2 separate regions of the Homo sapiens genome follow, and region 1 is linked to region 2. A link means that fine-mapping ties the variant in region 2 to the expression of a gene that starts in the linked region. Tissue or cell type: whole blood. Region 2 holds a variant in brackets; the other region holds the start of a gene. All regions are shown on one strand. Distances are from middle to middle.

The links. PIP is the estimated chance that this variant, and not a neighbour inherited with it, causes the effect.
Region 1: TEAD3 starts here. The variant in region 2 is fine-mapped to the expression of TEAD3 in whole blood (TOPMed, PIP above 0.99).

What each region holds. Positions count from the first base shown.
Region 1 is chr6:35,492,395-35,500,394 of GRCh38, reverse strand. It overlaps TEAD3 (TEA domain transcription factor 3), which reads left to right and starts at 3,316. Exons shown (of 13, transcript NM_003214.4): 1 at 3,316-3,497. It overlaps TULP1 (TUB like protein 1), which reads left to right. Exons shown (of 15, transcript NM_003322.6): 14 at 243-414; 15 at 1,935-2,521. The coding sequence ends at 2,068. It overlaps LOC124901309 (a long non-coding RNA gene), which reads right to left and starts at 2,262. Exons shown (of 2, transcript XR_007059561.1): 1 at 2,188-2,262. RefSeq lists enhancers at 1,480-2,409, 2,410-3,340, 4,287-5,072, 7,498-8,000, 7,569-8,000 and silencers at 2,809-3,138, 3,149-3,278, 3,459-3,508.
Region 2 is chr6:35,441,597-35,449,596 of GRCh38, reverse strand. It overlaps the pseudogene MKRN6P. Among named protein-coding and RNA genes, the nearest start is that of FANCE, 6.7 kb to the left of the region's middle. The variant G/A (reference allele first, on the strand shown) is at 4,258.

The DNA.
Region 1 (8,000 bases), 51 kb before region 2:
CCCTTGCCATTTTCCAGCCCTCCGCTTTGACATCCCAGAGACAAAGCCCCATTCTCACAGATGTGAACCCTGTCCACAAGGATGCCACAGATGCCAAGCCTATTCTCAGATACCCTAATGGATGAAGATGTCCAGGCCACACCCCTGTGCACACATGCCCAGGCCCCTTCTCCGGTCAGTCCTGAGCCATCTCAGCCATCTCTAACTGTCCTCTCCCTGTCTACTCCCCTGGGGCACCCCAGGCTAGTGACGGCCTGCTGGTGCGCTGGCAGAACAAGACGCTGGAGAGCCTCATAGAACTGCACAACAAGCCACCTGTCTGGAACGATGACAGTGGCTCCTACACCCTCAACTTCCAAGGCCGGGTCACCCAGGCCTCAGTCAAGAACTTCCAGATTGTCCACGCTGATGACCGTGAGTACCTGAGGGCCCAGGTCTGGCTCTTCTCCACCACCCCCAGGATGCTGACCTTCATTCAAGCTCCCCTCACCCCCTCACACACACACACACCAGCCTTTATCCCGAGAGCTGGGACATCCCACAGGGTCACTCTCTCCTCCATAGGCACTGACACTGTGCTCTCAGGAGCCTCAGATATTCTAAGCAGGTGTCTTGGGGCTCATCACTTCAGGTTCCCATTCCAGCATTGGCCAGAGCAGTGGGTTAGATACTGGGACATTCTGGATAAGATTGTGTTGAAGGGAGGGTTGGCTCCTAGAGTCTGAAAACCACGGACAGCCCAACTCCTCTTTGTTCAAAGAGAGTGCTGAGGCTCAGAGAGGGCAGCCCTTTGCCCAGAGTCTCTCAGCAACTTCAGGAAGTTACACTGGCCCTCGAAATTTATTTCACAAAACTTACACAGTGTTTACTATGTGCCAGGCACTGTTCTCAGGATTTTACAGATAACTGAATCATTAAATCCCTTCAACGTCCCTGTGAAGAGTGCCATTATTATCCCTATTTGGCAGGAAACTAAGGCACAGAGAGGTTAAGCAACTTGCCCACGGTCACATCACTAGTAGGAGGTAGAGCTGACAGTCTGGATCTCCAGTGGCCATGCTCTTAATCTCTTCAAGATGGTTGCCTTTTAGGGGCAGGGAATATTAAGCATTTTTGAGTGCCTACTCTGTGTCTTCTCTCAAGTGAGGTCAAAGGACTACCCTGGAAGACTCAGGGAAACAAGGTGTCCCTGTTACAAGCCTTGGTTGGAAAGGCTTCCTTCCCACTAGGGTGAGGAAGTTTGGGGATGGAAGGGTATCTCCCATAAGTCTCTGGGTTCACAGGGTTGGACCAACATTGAGCGAGCCCCAACTGCATCCTAGGGATGTGCCCCCAGTGCCACCTGTCCTGTGGCTGTGGGACTGCTCTCCAGATCACGTTTCTGGTGGAGCCTCGTCCACCTGAGTTTGGGGGTATTTTTAGCAACTTCCTGTCCCTATGGATCCTGGGGGAGGTGCTGAGGTTGGGGCTGGGAACCTGGATCATTGAAGGGAGAGGTGCCCAGTGAGGCTGAGGAAGGGAACCAGGGGCTAGTCAAGGGGTGGAGCTGGGGTCTAAGGTGGGACTTCGTGGCTGGGGATAGGAGGAAAGACTGTGGCCAGAAACAACAGAGAATTTGGGAAGGAAGAATGCTGGGCTTGGATAAATTTGACAGGGTCCTATAGTTAATCAGGTGCGGGCTCTAGGCATGGCCTGTGGCAGCAGCAGAAAGGCAAGGTCCCTGCCCCCAGGAGATTATAGTGTGACTGCAAAGCCACGTGGTGCTGGTGTGGAGTGAGATAGAAGAAGGGATGGGTGTTGAGTAACTGAGATGGTGGCTGAGGGTTGGAGCCCCAAGGCAAGGGACAGACTGCCCCCAAGGTTGAGGGCACTGTCTGCCAGGATGGGGGTCCAAGGAGGTCTCGGGCCGCCCCCACCCCGTCTTGTGTCCATAGCCGACTATATCGTGCTGCAGTTCGGCCGCGTGGCGGAGGACGCCTTCACCCTAGACTACCGGTACCCGCTGTGCGCCCTGCAGGCCTTCGCCATCGCCCTCTCCAGTTTCGACGGGAAGCTGGCCTGCGAGTGACCCCAGCAGCCCCTCAGCGCCCCCAGAGCCCGTCAGCGTGGGGGAAAGGATTCAGTGGAGGCTGGCAGGGTCCCTCCAGCAAAGCTCCCGCGGAAAACTGCTCCTGTGTCGGGGCTGACCTCTCACTGCCTCTCGGTGACCTCCGTCCTCTCCCCAGCCTGGCACAGGCCGAGGCAGGAGGAGCCCGGACGGCGGGTAGGACGGAGATGAAGAACATCTGGAGTTGGAGCCGCACATCTGGTCTCGGAGCTCGCCTGCGCCGCTGTGCCCCCCTCCTCCCCGCGCCCCAGTCACTTCCTGTCCGGGAGCAGTAGTCATTGTTGTTTTAACCTCCCCTCTCCCCGGGACCGCGCTAGGGCTCCGAGGAGCTGGGGCGGGCTAGGAGGAGGGGGTAGGTGATGGGGGACGAGGGCCAGGCACCCACATCCCCAATAAAGCCGCGTCCTTGGCCAAGCGGAGCGGTGGTTCCTCAGCGCGTGCGGAGAACGAGGCGGCAGGAGGCGTCCGAGGCGCGAGCTGGAAGTCTCAACCCCCGTCCCACTCCTGCCCAGGCCCCGGGCGCTCCCGCGTCCCCTCCCCGCGCCCGTCGCGGGTCCTACCGAAACTCGGCGGCCGCACAGCGTCGAGACGCCCCCCGTGGGGGCCCGGGGAGCCGGGGCGAAAGGGAGGGTCCCGGAGGTCGGGGAAGAGGGAGAAAGGGAGAAGAAATTCGAGAAACTAGCCACGCGGGGAGAACCAGACAAACCGGGTCCCGGCAGGGCGGGCGCAGCCGCCAGGGCGGAGCCGGGTCTGGGGCCCCGGGAGTGGGGGGCAGGCCCGCGAGCTGGAGGGTACGCTCCGCCTTGGCGGCTCGGGACTAGGGTGGAGGGGCCGGGAGCCCCGGGGCCCGTGCGCTCCGGCTCTGCCGGGCTCCTCGTGACGCGGCACCCACGGCCCCCGGCACCGACGGGAGCCCTGCCCGCGAGGCGAGGGCTCCGCCCTCGGCCCCGCCCCAGGCCGGAGCCCCAAATTCCGGCGGGTGCCCGGGAGCGGGGCGAGGCCCGGAGCGCAGGGGGAGGAAGGCAGCTCCGCACGGGCGGGCGAGGAGCGGGGCGCCCAGGCGCGCGCCAGCCGGGGTGGCCGGGTCGCGAGGCCGCGGGGTAGGCGGCCCGAGCGCGGCTGGACGGCCCCGCCCCTCCCGGCCAGCACCGCCCCCTGCGCGCCCCGCCCCCTCCTTCCCGCAGCCCCCACCCCCGCCCCGGCTCCTCAACACAAACTTTCCGTCCCGCTCGCTCCCTCCTCCGCGCTCGGCGCCTCCCGCTCCAGCCCGGCTCATTCCGCACATTCCGGCCAGCCCCCTCCCCACGACCCCCCTTCCCCGGCCCCCCTTGCGGCTCCCTCGGGCCCGGCGGAGCGGCCCGGCCGGAGCGCCCCCGCGAGCTCGGACCAGGTAAGCCGGGCGGACGCCGGGAGGAGGCCCCGCTCGGGAGAGGTGGTTTGGTTGGTCGGCTGGGCTGGCTGGGGGGGCGACACTCGAGGGGGACTGGGTCCCCGAGCTATTGTCCAGCCGGAGCTGGAGCCCCGGATCGGGGTGCCGGGAAGTTTAGAGGGAAGGGGGAAAATCTCTCCGGGAAGCCCCGCCCCCCGCCCTCCCCACCCCCCCGCGACGGGGACGAGTTGGTCCGGGAAGGTGGGGAAGCCGGGGAGACCGTGTCCCCTGTGCCGTCGCCTGTCCCGCCGTCCGTGCTTGGGGGGTCGGGGCGGGGATCCGGGGGCCGCACAGTGTGGAGGGCCTGCCTGCCACCCTGGAGCTCATATCCGGGGCGCCCAGTCCCGGGCCCCGCCGCCCTTTGGACTCCCGGCCCGCGCGCTCCCGGAGCCCGCCCGGCCTCAGCTCCACGCAGGCCTCGGGCCCGGCCTCCCAGCGCCCAGGCCGGTTTCTGCGCGCGGTGCCGCGGCTGCGCTGGGTTGTGGAGGGTGTCTGGGACCAAAGCCGCGCGCCCCGGCCGTGTGTCCCCTGAGAGGCAGGGAGGGGCTCACGTTCCCTTCAGTTCTGCCGCCTGCGTCGGGGTGCTGATTCAGAGTTCCAGCCCTGAGCGCTGTGAGCTTGGCTCGGAGGGGTCTGGATTTGGGGCCTTTTCTTCCCCACACTTGCTCAGGGCCCTTGTTTAGACTTGACAAGGTTTGAGGGTGGCTGGTCTCCCGCTTCCTACCCCGGTCCCCACCATTGTCTGTCATGCCCTTTATTCCTGCTAGGGGAGGGAGGGCTGGGAGCGCTGGTCTGGATCTGTTTTCCAGCCCAGCTGGGCCCTGGGGCAGTGTCATTGAGACCCCGCTCTGTCAACTTTCCTGGTGAGGGGCCCTGATCCAGGGCTGAGAGATTCTTTCAGTGCGAGGGGGAAGGAGGCCTTGGGGCGGACTTCTCAGGGGCTGTCTTCTTCTGTGTCTTCCCTCTTTCCAGGTAGGGGCAGAACCAGGTCAGGCCTGGACTTGTTGTCCGGAAGAACAGGGCATAGGGGTAGGGGCTGGACACAGCTCAGAGGGGCTGGTGCCCATAGCGGCTCTGCGTATCCAGTCTCTTGTGGCCTGGTTCTCTGTACACATGTTCCACCCCAGTGCTGGGGCCACCTGGGGCAAGGAGGGGAGGCTTTCCTCAAAAGTTGGAGATTTGGGGGAATTATGTCCTCTCCCTTCTAGACTCCTGTAGCCCCCCTCCCACCAAGACCCCTCTCGTAGGGGCACTCCCTAAAGGATGTGGTTCTGTGGTCTTCTGGGTCCCTGCTCACCCAGTGGGCAGAGTGCACAGATCTTCCAGGACAAGGCTGTCCAGTAAGGGTAACTTCAGGGGCCCTGGATGCCCCCTCCTCAGGGAGAGGGTAGGAGCCAGTATGAGTCCCAAGCTCTTGGGCCTTCCCCTACCCCCCCAGGGAGGGAACGTCATTAATGCTAATGAGCGCATCTGGGCTGGGGAATGGCTTGTTAGAGTGGTCAGTGGTTGCCAGGACAGAGCAGCACATTAAGTGTACAGAAGCATCACATGGGTCCTGAGCCCTGCTCCCATCCTCACCCAAAGGTTTGTAGACCCTGGCACTTTCTGCCAACTGAAGGAATGTTAAAACCGGGAGGATTTGATATTCTCAACAATATCAAAGGAGAAGATATCTCAACAGAGGTGGTCAAGAAATAGGGATCTGGTCCCCTCCGGACCTTTAACCAGTTGCGCCATCTTGGCAGGCCCCTTTGGGCCTCAGTTTCCCTGCTTGGAATGAATGACTTCTCAAGTCCCTTTTCTCTGAGCTCCTCCCAGAGTCTGTCTCCCAGTTTGCCTTCCTTCTCCCATGATGGAACCTGAACTTGGTGGGGTCTGGAGAGGCGGGTGGGTGATCCAGTGGCCCAAAGAAGAAGGCAAGGACAAACCAAGGGGTGACTGAGGAGTAGCTCAGCCAGATGAACAGGGCTGAAAAGGTGGCGGGGGGCAGGTGTCAAGGGACAGGGGGGCTTGGTGGATTGGGGGATCTTGCCTCTGAAGTGGTCATGGGTTCTGTTAGGGCTGAATGGCACAAAGGGTGCTCAGAGGCCGCTTGGGTGGCTCTACCCTCTGCCCCACTCCCAGACACCTGTGGGGGTCCCAGGGCTCAGTGTGGAAATCGCTGGTCCTGCCCTCCTCCTCCTCCCCGCCCAGGATGGGGAGAGGAGCCCAGGGGTCTAAACGCTGCAGCTTTCTGTGAAGGGGCTAGGAGGTCGCAGCCTCTTCTTCCCACATGGGGGCTGCAGAAGCTGTGGGGTCCCAGGGGTGGCCCTGAGGATCTGCCTCTGGGTAGAGCTGGGGAGGTCAGCAGGTCACACTCGGCACTGTCCCTGGGGCCTTGCCCTGCCTTCCCTCCCCTCCCCTCCTGGTGTTGTGCCAGCCCTGGGCTGTCTGCAGAAGGGGCCACTTCCCTCCAGGGAGAACCCTGCCAGGGAAAGGGCTCTGCCTGTCTTCCCCGACCCACAGGAGGTTGAGGTTAGGGCCAGAGAGGTTCATCCCCCTGCACATCCCTAAAGCCTCAGCCCTTGGGGTTTCCTAGAGTGCCGATTGTTTCCTGTGCTCCCTGCCAGGCCTGAAAGGGCAGGAAGTGTTAGAGGGAAATGAGAATGCAACTGTGTGTGACGCTGGATGTGTGTGAGAGAAGCCATGAGTGGGACATTCTATGTGGGTGAGACTTGTCTTCTGTGGGGCTGGATGTGTGTGGAAGAGAACCTTGGTCAGAGCAACTTGTGCAGGGCTGGGTGTATGCAGGAGAGAAACTGTGGCTTTGTGACATTCGTGTGTGTGACAGATATACACGTCCATAAGAGAAACTGGGTGACTCTTCATGTGTCCAGGTGTGCCGCCACCTCTGTACCTGAGAACCTGCATGGGGGATGTTCTGTGTGTGCCAGGGCATCACCCAGGATGTGCCGATGAAGGAAGCTGGCTGCCTAGCCATCTGTGTGTACCTGGAGATGACACTGGGTGTGGCTCTGATGCTCAAGTGACCTGCGTGTGAAGGACACCGCACTCGCACGATGCTGTGTGTATGTGAGCGCGCGGGCGCGTGTGCGTGAGAAGCCGGATGAGTGGCGATCTGTGTGATGTGTTACGCTGTGGTGTGACCACTTGTGACCTGCATGTTGTGACGCAGCATGTGAGATGGCCTCAGGTTTGTCTGTGTGTGACTTACATGTGACACTACATGCGAGTAAAACAACATGACCAGCTCTGTGTCAGTATGATGTGTGTACCAGCAAGGTGGGCCCCATCCGACATGTGCCAAGCATGAATATGGTATGCGGTGTGTGGGTGACACTGAGCACCAGAAAGCGACACCGTATGTGAGAGAAACCGTGGGGCGTGACTGATGCTGGCGCTGTGGGTGGGTGGTCACTATCTGAGCGTGTTTGGGACTCTCGGGTAGTGTGGGTGACACCCCCAGGGCTGTGCCAGGCAGGGCGTGTAGGAGGCTCTGTGGGATGCTTTTGGGGGCCTGTGGTCCCTGACGTGTGGCATCTATGTGGAAGACAATGAGAAAGACACTGATAAAAACAAAGAAGGAATGTAATTAATGCCTCTCAATTGTACACTTAGAAATGGCTAAAATGGTAAACTTGATGTTATGTATATTTTATCACAATAAAGACATTTTTAAAAACCCAGCAGGAGAGAGATGCGGGTAACAGTGAATGAGCAGGACAGTGGCTGTGACGCAACTGTGTATGCGAGCGAGAGGAAGGGCGCAGAGGAAACCTATTTGTTCTTAGATGACACCGTGACTCTCATGAGGGCACTGACTGAGTGGCTGGTGGGAGCCCAGTGGGCGACCCAGAGTACCAGGAGTCTGGCATGGTAACTGAGAACTGAGAAACCCAGTGACCCCCTATAGTCTGTCTCTCACTGGATACCTGAGATTCCCACCCTGGGACCAGGACAAGATGAGGAGATAAGTCAGTCCCAGGGAGGGGGTGAAGGGAGGTCTGGAAACTGGGCCCTTCTCTCTACAGGGGACTTGAGGGCTGAGTCTCCACCCTCCTACCCGCTATACTGCTTCAGGGAGCAGGAGCGTGACAACAGATGAGATGAGCTTTGCAGAAGGAGGCCTGGGGGGACTATCCCAACCCCCTCTGCTCCCTGAGAAAGCCCCTTTCCCAAGTAGTGTGGGGAGGAGGGGCAGAGAATCTCCAGTCCCAAATTGGAAGCACATTAATAAGCAGGGCGGGGGGTGGGGAGAGAGTGGAGGGGCCCCCACCTCCCTCCTAGTGGGCTCTGCAAATTGCTTCCTCCTGTAAAAATTGAGACCCTGTTCCAGGAAGGAGGGAAGCCCTCCCCAGCCTGGCAGGGTGTGGCTGCTTGGCAGGGTCCCTCCGGGGTCCTTGGGCTGGAGGTGGGGGAGACAGATACATCCCTACTTGCTCTGCTGCCCCAGAGCATGGCTAC
Region 2 (8,000 bases):
CAGCAGATGGCAGTAAAGTATCTTAAGGGGCCCCTTTCTGTACTTCTCAGTCTCTGAGCCAGCAACAGCAGCGGCCCTGGGAACCTCCTTTCATTTTTCTGGTTTATTTTGTTTGTTTTTTGGGTTTTTTGTTTGTTTGTTTGTTTGAGATGGAGTCTTGCTCTGTCACCCAGGCTGGAGTGCAGTGGTGCAATCTCGGCTCATTGCAACACCCACCTCTGGGGTTCAAGCAATTCTCCTGTCTCAGCCTCCCGAGTAGCTGGGACTACAGGTGCATGCCACCACGTGCAGCTAATTTTCATATTTTTAGTAGAGGTGGGGTTTCACAAAATTGGCCAGGCTGGTCTTGAACTCCTGACCTCAGGTTATCCAACCACCTCAGCCTCCCAAAGTGCTGGGATTACAGGTGTGAACCACTATACCAGACTTTTTTTTGTTTTTGAGATGGAGTTTCACATTTGTTGCCCAGGTTGGAGTGCAGTATCATGATCTGGGCTCACTGAAACCTCCATCTCCCAAGTTCAGGCGATTCTCCTGCCTCAGCCTCCCAAGTAGCTAGGATTACAGGCACCCACCACCACGCCCATCTAATTTTTTTGTATTTTTAGTAGAGACGGGTTTTCACCATGTTGCTCAGGCTGGTCTCAAACTCCTGACCTCAGATAATCCACCCACCTTGCCCTCCCAAAGTGCTGGGATTACAGGTGTGAGCCACCGTGCCCGGCCTTTTTGTTTTTTTTTTTTTTTTTTTTTGAGACAGGGTTCTTGCTCTGTCACCCAGGTTGGAGTGCAATGGCATGATTACGCTCACTGCAGCCTTGACCTCCTGGGGCTCAGGTGATCCTCCTGCCTCAGCCTCTTGAGTAGCTGGGACTGCACGCGTGTGCCATCATGCCTGGCTAATTTTTATATTTTTTGTAGAGATGGGGCTTCACCATGTTGCCCAGGCTGGTCTCAACTCCTGGGCTCAAGAGTTCCTCCCCGTCAGCCTCCCAAAGTGCTGGGATTACAGGTGTGAGCCACCGTGCCCAGCCCCTCAGTTTCTTCTTCTACAGTATGAGGATAGTAAGAGTCCCTGCCTCATGCAGTTTACGAGATACAAAGCCTGTCACACAATAAACCTCCATCTACACCATCTCCTATCACATCCAGTCCTGAGCGCTCCCCTTGGGAAACTTCCAACTGGTGGCCCAGCTGCCAGTACAGTTGCTGTTGAACAACACAGGCTTGAATTGCCTGGGGCAGCTTATACGCAGACAAGATCCTGGAGACAGCAAAACCAATTCCCTCCTCTTCGTCCTTCTACTCAATGTGAAGACAATGAGGATCAAGTCGTTTATGGTAATCTGCTTTCACCTAATGAATAGTAAATATATTTTCTCCTTTATGATTTTAACGTTTCTTTTCTCTAGCTCACTTTATTGTAAGAATACATATTATGTTATATAATACATATAACATATAAAATCTGTATTAATTGACTTTATGTTGTCCGAAAGGGTTCTGGTCAGCGGCATGTTATTAGTTAAGTTTTGGGGGAGTCAAAAGTTATACATGGCCAGGTGTGGTGGCTCACGCCTGTCATCCCAGCACTTTGGGAGGCTGAGGCGGGTGGATCGTTTGACCTCAGCAGTTCAAGACCAGCCTGGGAAACATGGCAAAACCCTGTCTCTACAAAAAATACAAAAATTAGCCAGGCATGGTGGTGCGCGCCTATAGTACCAGCTACTGGGGAGGATTGCTTGAGCCAGGAGGCTGAGGCTGCAGTGAGCCGAGATTGCACCACTGCACTCCAGCCTGGGCAACAGAGCGAGGCTCTGTCTCAACAACAACAACAGCAACAACAACATTCTATATGGATTTTCGATTGCATGGGGTTCGGTGCCCCTAACCCCTAAGTTGTTCAAGGGTCAACTGTATTTCCTCACTTCCATCTCTCTTTGCCTGGGACACCCTCTTTTTTCTCCTCCTGAGGAACCCTGTTCTTCCCATGCACAGCTTAAATACTTCCCCTTCTGTAAGAGTCACTCGAGTTAGTGTTTCCTTCAGTAATTTTGTTGATGCAGCTATTAGCGTTCACAGGTGTCTCCAGAACACGCCTGACTATCTCCTGGGTGAAGACGAGGCCTCCTTCTTTATCCCTCCCTTTACCCAAATACACTTTGCATAGATCAAGTGTAGTAAACCCTTTGGGAAGGTGGAGTTAGGAACTTGGAATTGCAGCTAATTCCAGATTTTGAATAAGTGCTTACCCTCCCCAAGAGATTCAGACCTATCCAATAAGGCTGCCTTTCAGCCCCCTTCTCAGCCACCCCATGTTTTCAAAGAGCAGCTAAGCAAATAACATGTATTCATATCAGTTTACTTTCCTGCCTTATGACAAATTGGAAATAAAAGCCAAAGCAAGGCTTCTCATGGTGCAGAGAGAACCAGAGTTGCTCTAAGTTGATTCTGAGCCAAGTTAGAAGAGAAAATTGGCCCTGGTGTTCCTTCTGCTATCTCAGCCACTCTCCGTTTATTAAGTGGGCTTTCTTTCCTTTTTTTTGAGACAGAGTTTCACTCTTGTTGCCCAGGCTGGAGTGCAGTGGCACAATCTCAGCTCACTGCAACCTCCACCTCCAGGGTTCAAGCGATTCTCCTGTCTCAGCCTCCCGAGTAGCTGGGATTACAGGCGCCTGCAATCACGTCTGGCTAATTTTTGTATTTTTAGTAGAGACGGGGTTTCACCATGTTGGTCAGGTGGTCTTGAACTCCTGACCTCAGGTGATCTGCCCGCCTTGGCCTCCCAAAGTGCTGGGATTACAGGTGTGAGCTACCATGCCTGGCCTTATTAACTGGGCTTTCTGAAATCATGAAAATAGTTCATGCCTTCACCTGCCATTTTGGTCACTCTAAACTTCAGGGCTTTGGGGATTCACTGGCTGGGAACCATGGCTGAACCAGAATGAATCAGGGGCTACCTTCTCCACTTCCCTAACCCTGAGTCTCGTTCCCTCTGCAGCCTCACCTGGTCCGAGCCTTGAAGTTCCTGATGAGTTGCTCCTTCTGGGCCCCCTTGCTCACCCAGAACTTGTGGGGGATGATGTAGCTGGAATGGACACGGCACTGTGGACACGCCCTGAGCAGTGGAGTAGAATGTGGGAGAATAGTCACAGGCCCCCAGGCCAGCCTCCTCACTGGGGTGTTTCCCTCCATCCCTGTTGGGACCCCCATGACACTGACTTGATGACATCCAGCGGGAAGTCCTGCCGGTTCTTCCGCCAGGTGCGCAGGCAGCCCAGACAGTGGGCATGGGTGCAGTTGGGCAGGATGCCGAAGACCCGCTGGGCCTCTGGCTTGTCCCACACTTTGTCCATGCAGATGCCACACACCACATCCCGACTGTCCTGCTTCCCAGGCAGCCACAGGTAGGGTCAGACACTCCACCCGCATGCCCACATTCAGCCTCAGTGGCCACCAAGCCCTCCCCCAGCAGATCTGGGTGTCCCAGAGGGCCAGAAAGCCATCTTTTGCCACCCCTCACCCACAACCTGCTGCACCTCAAGGTCCAGGCTCTGAAGTGGCGCCATGAGCTCTCGGACAAGGTGGAACTTTGGCAGAGACTCCTGGGAGTGGCCGTGATCCCTGTCAGCAGCTGTTGGGAAAACTGCATCCATTCACTCACCCCTGAGGCAACCACTGAGCATTTCCTGCATGCAAGACTCTGTGGTAACCCACGTCCTGCCCCCAAGTGGATTAGAGACCAGTCAGAATTAGAAGCCTCTCATATAGGCCAGGCTCGGTGGCTCATACCTGTAATCTCAGCACTTTGGGAGGCCGAGGTGGGTGGATCACCTGAGGTCAGGAGTTCAAGACCAGCCTGGCCAACATGGCGAAACCATCTCTAGTAAAAATACAGAAATTAGCCAGGTGTGGTGGCGAGTGCCTGTAATCTCAGCTACTCAGGAGGCTGAGGCAGGAGAATCGCCTGAACCCAGGAGGCGGAGGTTGCAGTGAGCTGAGATCATGCCATTGCACTCTAGCCTGGGCAACAGAGGGAGACTTCATTTCAAAAACAAAAAAAACAGACTGTAATCCCAGCACTTTGGGAGGCCAAGGCAGGCAGATCACGAGGCCAGGAGTTCGAGACCAGCCTGGCCAATATGGTGAAACCCTGTCTCTACTAAAAATTCAAAAATTAGCCAGTCGTGATGGCATGTGCCTATAGTCCCAGCTACTCAGGAGGCTGAGGCAGAAGAATCGCTTGAACCAGGAGGC[G/A]GAGGTTGCAGTGAGCCAAGATCGTGCCACTGCACTCCAGCCTGGGAGACAGAACGAGACTCTGACTCAAAAAAAAAAGAAGCCTCTCCTATAGCCATTTAGAAGAGTGCTGTTCAATACAGTAACCAAGAGCCATATGCGGCTCTTGAGCAACTGAAATGGGGCAAGTCTGAGTTGACACCTGCTATAAGTAGAAAATAGGGCCAGGCGCGGTAGCTCACGCCTGTAATCCCAAAACTTTGGGAGGCTAAGGTGGGTAGATCACTTGAGCTCAGGAGCTGGAGACCAGCCTGGACAACATGGCAAACTCTGTCTCTATCAAAAATAAAAAATAGGCCAGGCGCAGTGGGTCATGCCTGTAATCCCAGTACTTTGGGAGGCCGACGCGGGCGGATCACGAGGTCAGGAGATCAAGACCATCCTGGCTAACATGGTGAAACCCCGTTTCTACTAAAAAAATACAAAAAAAATGAGCCAGGTGTGGTGGTGGGCGCCTGTGGTCCCAGCTACTCGGGAGGCTGAGGCAGGAGAATGGCATGAACCCAGAAGGCGGAGCTTGCAGTGAGCCGAGATTGTGCCACTGCACTCCAGTCTGGGCGACAGAGTGAGACTCAGTCTCAAAAAAAAAAAAAAAAAAAAAAGATGAAGTACTGATACGTGCTACAACATGGACGAACCTAGAAAACTTCACACTCAATGAAAGCAGCCAGACACAAAAGGCCACATATTGTAAGATTCCGTTCATATGAAAAGTCCAGAACAGCCAAACCACAGAGACAGAATGTGGATTAGTGGATACTAGAGGCTGGGAGCGGGGAGGATGAAACTGACTGCTAATGGGATGATAAAAATGTTCTAAAATTGGGTAGCAGTGATGTTTGCATAACTTTGTGAATTAACGCATTGAATTGTATAAATTGATGAATTTTTTGGTTTGTGAATATTTCAATAAAGCTGTTATAAAAAATTACATATGTGACTTAAATTTCTTTATATTCTGAATAACATTGATTTAGAGCAATAATTTAAAAAATAGCCAGGCCGGGCACGGTGGCTCACGCCTGTAATCCCAGCACTTTGGGAGGCCAAGTCAGGCGGATCACGAGGTCAGGAGTTCGAGATGAGCCTGACCAACACAGTGAAACCTCGTCTCTATTAAAAATACAAAAATTAGCTGGGCATGGTGGTGCATGCCTGTAATCTCAGCTACTCGGGAGGCTGAGGCAGGAGAATCGCTTGAACCCTGGAGGCGGAGGTTGCAGTGAGCTGAGATAGCGTCACTGTACTCTAGCCTGGGTGACAGAGGGAGACCCTGTCTCAAATAAATAAATAAATAAAATAAAAAATAGCCACTAACATTTAGTGCATACTCTGTACCAGGTACTGTGCTAAGCATATCAACCCTCAAAATAAGCCTGTGAGTTAAGTATTATTATCAATGCCGTTTTGTAGATGAGGGAACCAAGGCCCAGAGAGGTTAAGTGACTTGTCCAAGATCACACAGCTACTGGGTATAGGGATAGGGCATTTGGAACTAGGGGGTTTTACTCTGTTGGTACCATGGTATTCTGCTTTTAGAACACACAAAGCAACAGAACTAGAGGAAAATTTCCCTCCAGCTGGGAATCTTGAAGAGGAAGGGGAATGGATGAAAACATAAACCCTGCTCAGAGGCAGAGCACGAGCTCTAGTGTCAGTGCCCACTTATGCCCACCTGCGGTGCCCCTGATGACTCACATGATGAAGGCAGGGACTTCCAGGAGCTGCCGCCAACCTCCTCAGCCTTGCTAGCCAGCCCCTCCAGGGCAGGCTCCATGCCCCAGCAGGCCCTGGCCCAGCCCCAGCCCACAGCCACAGAGGGCAGGTAGGTGGGCTCGGATCCCCTGCGGGCCAGTCCTAGGTGGGGCCCTGGCAGAGTGACATGTGGCTCCGAATGGCGGCGACCCCACTCCAGGGGGCTGGGGGTCTTTGGGTGCTGACAGCTGTAGTGGGGAAGAAGAGAGTGAGGAGACAGGGACAGCCCTCCGGGGCTCAGAGCCAGCTCAGCCTAGAACTTGGAGCTGAGTTGGGAGAAGCAGCTCTGGGAAGATACATGATTTGTGAAGGGACGATCTCTCTAGTGTCCCACCCTAACACCACTCCCCAGAGGGGAAGAAGAGGGACTTACCTGCATTGATCTCCACGATGTCCAGGGAAGCAGAAGCCTTGCTGGAAGTACTTGCAGACCTGGGACACCTTTCCATCATGAGCAAAGCGATGCCTTGACCCCCAGCGATGGGCCCGGAAAACAAAGTTCCTAAGAGATTGTCTAAGTCATGCCCAGCCCTGTTTTAGTTCCTGCCTTTGTGATCCTTACAGACAGAGGCTGTCTGATACGGTGAGAACAACACAGGCTCTGGAATTCATCTGGTGTTCAAATCCTGACCCCACTGGGAACACTAGGTGAGTAACTCACCTTCTCTAAAGCTTGGTTTCCTCACTCTTAAGAGTGGGGTAACAGGCTGGATGCGGTGGCTCATGCCCATAATCCCAGCACTATGGCAGGCACAGGCAGGCAGATCACCTGAGGTCAGGAGTTCAAGACCAGCCTGGCCAACATATTGAAACACTGTCTCTACTAAAAATACAAAAATCAGCCAGGCATGATGGCAGGCACCTTGGGCTACTCAGGAGGCTGAGGCAGGAGAATTGCTTGAACCTGGGAGGTGGAGGTTGCAGTGAGCCGAGATCACACCACTGCACTCTAGCCCAGTCAACAAGGGTGAAACTCCATCTCAAAATAAAAAAAGGGGGGGTGGGTGGTAACAATGCCTAGCCCTTGCTGAGTTGTTGTAAAGGTTTTTAAGATTTTTCACAATCAGCCTGGCCTGGTGGCTTACACCTGTAATCCCAGCACTTTGGGAGGCTGAGGCGGGCAGATCACCTGAGGTCGGGAGTTCGAGACCAGCCTGACCACATGGAGAAAGCCCATCTCTACTAAAAATACAAAATTAGCCGGGTGTGGTGGCACATGCCTGTAATCCCAGCTACTTGGGAGGCTGAGGCAGGAGAATAGCTTGAACCCAGGAGGCAGAGATTGCGGTGAACTGAGACTGTGCCATTGCACTCCAGCCTGGGCGACAAGAGCAAAACTCCATCTCAAAAAAAAAAAAAAAAAAGATTTTGCACAATGCATATAGCAGGTGCTTGGTGATCACAGTGATCACTATTACTCTCCCCAAAAGTAGAGTTGTGGATTCTGGAGTCAGAATTCTAGGTTCACATTCTACCACCAGGACTGGCTTCACCAGTGGGGACCTATACAATCACACAGGGGCCCTACACTTGCATTAATACTCTGCTGTCCCGGTCTTGAAATTATTAATAGTTTTTGAGCCCCACATTTTCATTTTGCAATGGGTCCCACAAATTATATAGCCAGTTCTGCCTAGTAACACTACTTTTTGGTTACGTAAGCTTGGACAAGTCACCTAACTTTTCCATGCCTCAGTTTTCTCATTCGTAAAATGGGGATAATAGTAGGACCTACTTCCTGGGGTGATGTCAAACTTAAGACCCTGTCTGTAAAGTCCCTGGCCCATAGCAAGCCCTGGGTAAATGACAGCTGTTGCCATCACTTCTCTTATCACTTCCCCTCTCCCGCCCCCTTTCCCTCCTCCTCTGAGGAATCAAGGTGGGAGGTAGAGAAGGGTGAGGGGAGGATGAGGTGGGCAAGCATTTAGTGAGAGTCTCCTCAGTGTCCA